Regions from separate parts of the Homo sapiens genome. Here region 2 is linked to region 1. Evidence: fine-mapped expression QTL. Tissue or cell type: whole blood. Region 1 holds a variant in brackets; the other region holds the start of a gene. All regions are shown on one strand. Distances are from middle to middle.

Evidence for each region. PIP is the estimated chance that this variant, and not a neighbour inherited with it, causes the effect.
Region 2: it holds the start of SLC30A1, and the variant in region 1 is fine-mapped to the expression of SLC30A1 in whole blood (INTERVAL, PIP above 0.99).

Annotation. Positions count from the first base shown.
Region 1 is chr1:211,606,543-211,609,297 of GRCh38, reverse strand. LOC105372903 (a long non-coding RNA gene) reads left to right here. Exons shown (of 2, transcript XR_001738450.2): 2 at 2,065-2,755. Among named protein-coding and RNA genes, the nearest start is that of SLC30A1, 29 kb to the right of the region's middle. The variant A/C (reference allele first, on the strand shown) is at 1,599.
Region 2 is chr1:211,577,575-211,580,329 of GRCh38, reverse strand. It overlaps SLC30A1 (solute carrier family 30 member 1), which reads left to right and starts at 1,169. Exons shown (of 2, transcript NM_021194.3): 1 at 1,169-2,339. The coding sequence starts at 1,718. RefSeq lists silencers at 580-1,139, 1,380-1,689, 2,190-2,539 and enhancers at 996-1,495, 1,496-1,997, 1,970-2,079.

The sequences.
Region 1 (2,755 bases):
CGGGCTTCAGTCAAGGCCAATCCAGAGTTCAAAGCCACACCAAGGACCTTGCATTTGTGTCTTTCCTCTCTTCTTCCGAAGGCTTCGTCCTGACTCCACCTCCCTGGCTTGAAGCCAATGTGCCAAATGACAAATTTGCCAAAAACATGATTTAAGGAATATGCTTTTTTAAAACAGTCAATAAACATATATATATATATATATATATATATTTTTTTTTTTTTTTTTTTTTTGAGATGGAGTCTTGCTCTGTTACCCAGGCTGGAGTGTAGTGGTACTAACTCGGCTCACTGCAACCTCCACCTCCTGGGTTCTAGTGATTCTCCTGCCTCAGCCTCCCAAGTAGCTGGGATTACAGGCACCCACCACCACACCTGGCTAATTTTTTTTGTATTTTTGGTAGAGAAGAGGTTTCACCATGTTGGCCAGGCTGCTCTCGAACTCGTGACCTCAAGTGATCCACCCGCCTCGGCCTTCCAAAGTGCTGGGATTACATGCGTGAGCCACTGCACCCAGCCTGAATATGCTTATATTTTCAAATTGATTCAGAAATTGGCTTTCAATGAATTGGCTTTCAGAAAATTGTTTTTAGGCCAATTGCCCTGTTTGCAGCTATTCTTGAGAACCACGATGGTTGGCAGCAGCTCCTTGGACTGTAAGCTTCTCCACTCATGTCCAGGAGAAGAAAGAGCCTCTATGCCCAGCCTCACCAGCACAAGTCCTGAGGTTTGCTCTGGTGGGTCAGCAGGGCTCACAAGTGGTCCCCCGAGCCAATGACTGTGGCCTGGAGAACATGCTGGCTGGCTTGGATCTAGCTCAGTGTCTTTTCTTCAGCCAGTAGCTAGGGCCAGGGTGATGGGGCTATGTTGGTGGGCTTAAGCCATTTGAGCCCCACTCCTAAGGCAGGGGGTGGGTAAAATCATACCCTGGGCATGTGGCTGGGGAACTCCCATTAGGAAAGGCCACGCAGGCCACAGATATGGAGAACCTAAGTAACAATGCCAGTGACAGTTGAAGACATTCCTGAATAACCAGCCAAAGTGTTTGGACTTTGTTCTACAGGCAGCCAGGTGACATTGGAAGGTTTTTAGATCTGGGAAGAAAGTTCTTCCTGGTGGTGTTTTAGGAAGATTAGTCTGACCATAGATTGGATGAAAGTAGAAAAAAGGCTGGCAAACCAGTGGGGTGATTAGAGAACCCAGGGGAGAGGCAATGAGGACTGAAACTAAGGAACTGGAATGAGAAACCAAAGAAAGGGAGGACAATAAAGTATTTTGAAAGAAGAAGTAGGTCGGGCACTGTAGCTCATGCCTGTAATCCCAGCACTTTGGGAGGCTGAGGCAGGAGGATCACCTGAGGTCAGGAGTTCAAGACCAGCCTAGCCAACATGGCGAAACCCCCTCTCTACTAAAAATACAAAAATTAGCTGAGCCTGGTGGCATGCGCCTGTAATCCCAGCTACTCGGGAGGCTAAGGCAGGAGAATCGAACCTGGGAGGCAGAGGTTGCAGTAAGCCAAGATGGTGCCATTGCATTCCAGCCTGGGCAGCAAAAGTGAAACTGTTTCTGTCTCAGAAAAAAAAAAAAAAAGCAAGCAAG[A/C]AAGAAAGAAGTACTAGGAGTTAGTGTCTTATTGGACATCAGGGAAGTGGGTGGACAGTGACAGAGGGAGTCTGACAGAGGGAGTCAAAAATGGCTCCAAGGTCTCTGACCTGGGTGAAATCATGGAACTTCTGCCTGTACCATTAATAACTCCTTTCTCTGAGAGCTGTCTCCTCACTCACAGGGAAGGTCCTCTGTCCTGTTCGTACTGGGTCCCCATTGTTTTTGCAGCCTGGCCCTCCCTCCCTTTCTGGGAATGGACCCTTCCCTCCTGGGAAGCATCCATTGCTCCCTCATCTCTCCACGGCTGTTGTGGAGGTCACTGTGTAAATGCACAGCCTTTGTCTAGGGACGCCGGACCCAAGATGGGTCAATCGGAACTCTTCCTCAGCTTGGGACTAAAGCAAAGAAAGATCTCTCTCTCTCTCTCTCTCTCTCTCTCTGTCTCTCTCAATCTCTCTCGGAGGCTGAAGATGTGATTGGGCCAGCTGGTGACCTGTTGCTGGCCTCATGCTTCCACATGAAGATGCCAGGCTGCAAAACGGAGAAGAAGGAAGCCCATGCAGAGATGGCTTCTGAGTGAGAGCTTAGGAGCAGCTGCCCGGGTGCCCGTAGGCGGTCAGATTTCTAGATGCACTTCCTGTTCTTGGGTTCCGCAAGACACCCTCTGGCTCTTTTGCATACATTTTAAGCAACTACTTCTGAAGTTGGGAAATCAGGAGTAGCCGCTGACTCTAAAGAGAAACTATATCAATTTGGAATGTATTTGCATTATCAGTGAGTTTACTGGAAGTATTAAAGCTGGACCATCACTTGGAGATGTTGTAAGGAAATGTGAACATTTGGCGAACAGACCTTTAAATAAAGAAGGAAGCCATGGGAGTGGCTGAGATCTCCCTGAGAGAAAGTGGAGAGATGTTCAGAGGTAACTTCGTTTAGAAACTTTTATTTAAAAATCACATTTAGAAACTAGAAGGTGTGGGGGGACCCAGTAAAGGAGACAGAAAGGGATTTACCAGAGAGTTGCGGGAGCTACGATTGTGGTGTCAAAGAACCAAAGGGAGGAGCAAATGCAAGATCTCAACCAATAAGGAAGTGTAAGCGACGAAGGGCAGGCCTTGGGGTGGGTCGACTCAGCAGCTCCACCATTTTACTGA
Region 2 (2,755 bases), 29 kb after region 1:
ACTCATCTCCACCCACAACACAGTGCTTATGTATTCAGTCTAAAATAGCACAATTTATCAAGAGTATTCCATCGTAATTTTAAAATGTCGTGTTTATATTTTACCTCCACCTGGACAGAAACTCGTTCCTTTGTATTCTTACTGCCCCTCCACCTCCCCATAGCAACCAGCACAAGATTCCACCGTGTGTAGTCTATAAATAAATGTTAAATCATAGAGCCTTAGAATTTTGGAGTCAGACGGGGATCTTCAGAGTTGCATTTGTCCAGTCCTTTATAGATGGGGAAACAGGTCTAGAGAGATTAGGTGACTTGCTCAAAGCCACACAGCTGGCTATTGACAAGGCAAGGAGCAGAGCCCAGGTTTCTCCTGCCTGAAGTCTGTACCCTGAACTGTCCTTAGATAATCAGTGACAGACACCTGAGTTCACACAAGGTCTCCAGGGGTTGATGGTGATAGGAGAAACTGGCTTTCCCAAAACATGTACAAAGATTCGGTCCACGCCCCTAGCAGACCTTCGGGAGGACTAACTCCTCAGCTCGGCGTCCAGCAGAGTCCCAAGTTACAGTCGCACTTGTTTATGCGTCTGTCGGCCTCCTCCGACAGGACCGAGTACTCGAGGGCCCCGCGCTCAGGGGCTCCCCTCCGGCCCCTCCCCCGCCGCCGAGCTGTCACACAGCCGCCGCGCGGCCCGCCCCCACGTGGACTGGGCTCGGAGGATCAAAGTCTGTTTGCAGACTTTGCAGCCCGGCCCCCGCAGGTGTGCTGGGAGTTGCGATGGTCCGCAGGCCAGGACTCCGCCACACCCGAGGGGACCCGGCCAGCCCCTCCCCCTCCCGCTGCACGCGGCCCGCGCCCCCAATTCGCCCGCCGCTGCACCCGGCCACGGCCCCCCGGCCCACGCCCGGCTCCGGGAGGAAAAGGCCCCGCCCCTATCTGTTGGAGCCGCGACCCCGCCCCCTTCCCGCCCCTCCGAGGCTCCATCCAATAGTGAGCGTGGCTGGGCGGGACGCCGAGGCTGTCGTGAGGGGGTCCTGACCAATGGGGAAGCGTGCCGGGCCTGGTGGGCGGGGCGGCAAGGCCTTGTCACGCTCGGGTCCGTGTGAAAACGGGGGTTCCGAGTGCAAAGCAAAGTTTTTTTGTAAACCGTCTGCAAAGGCGGGGGGGCGAAGAAGGCGCCCGAGACCGGGCCGAGTGCAGCTGCCGTGGCCGCCGCCTCTCTAGCTCCTCAGCCATCCGCTCCTCAGTCCAGCCGCCGCAGAGGAGACCAGCAAGCAGAGCCCTCAGATGCTCGGAGCTTTCTCGGCGCGAAGCTGCCCGTCGCCCTCTCCTGCCGCCCTCGCCCGCCGCCCTCCTGCTCCTGCTCCGGCTGCGGCTCTTGGTACCCCGGCTCCGGGAGCCCAGCTCCCCGCCACCGCCGCCGCCTGGGTGTGGGGGCTGCTGAGGCTGAGCCGGGCCTCGGCGCCGGCTCTGAGGACGGACGCCTGAGGAGCTGCGCGGCGCGGCGCCGCCGGCTGGCGGAGAACGCCCACAGGCGCGGGGCTCGGCGGCTTGACCCGGGCTTGTCCCCGTGCGGCCGCGGGGGCCCCTCAGCGGTTTCCCGAACGGCCCGACTCGGGCGCTCCTCCGTGTCGCGGTCGCCGACCCTCCGCGTCCCGCCAACGCCGCCGCTGCACCAGTCTCCGGGCCGGGCTCGGCGGGCCCCGCAGCCGCAGCCATGGGGTGTTGGGGTCGGAACCGGGGCCGGCTGCTGTGCATGCTGGCGCTGACCTTCATGTTCATGGTGCTGGAGGTGGTGGTGAGCCGGGTGACCTCGTCGCTGGCGATGCTCTCCGACTCCTTCCACATGCTGTCGGACGTGCTGGCGCTGGTGGTGGCGCTGGTGGCCGAGCGCTTCGCCCGGCGGACCCACGCCACCCAGAAGAACACGTTCGGCTGGATCCGAGCCGAGGTAATGGGGGCTCTGGTGAACGCCATCTTCCTGACTGGCCTCTGTTTCGCCATCCTGCTGGAGGCCATCGAGCGCTTCATCGAGCCGCACGAGATGCAGCAGCCGCTGGTGGTCCTTGGGGTCGGCGTGGCCGGGCTGCTGGTCAACGTGCTGGGGCTCTGCCTCTTCCACCATCACAGCGGCTTCAGCCAGGACTCCGGCCACGGCCACTCGCACGGGGGTCACGGCCACGGCCACGGCCTCCCCAAGGGGCCTCGCGTTAAGAGCACCCGCCCCGGGAGCAGCGACATCAACGTGGCCCCGGGCGAGCAGGGTCCCGACCAGGAGGAGACCAACACCCTGGTGGCCAATACCAGCAACTCCAACGGGCTGAAATTGGACCCCGCAGGTGAGCCGGGAAAGTCGCTGCCGCAGGTGGTTGGGTTTGGGGTGCCCAGAGCCTCGCCTGGCCTTCGGCGGGGTGGCCCGCACGCCCCCTGCTGCCCGAGCGGGCCTGCGCCGCGCCGCCCCTGCCTGCTCCCTCCCCGTCCTGCACACGCCCCGCTGCTGCTCCAGGAAATCAGAACCCCCTCAGTCGGGTGCAAGGAGCCGGCGACGCGTCTGGCATATTTGTAGGTGGGGGCTGTGGGTCAGACCCTAAGAAAAAGGGTCAGGAGGTGATCATCATCCCGCTGCAGTCCACACCCGCACTTGGCTGTCTTTACAGGCTGCAGCAACTTTGCTGGAGACTTGTCTGGTTATGGTTATAACAGCGTCAGAAATGCTTCCCAATTCAATTCCTTGGCCCTCTTGGGAAACGGAGAG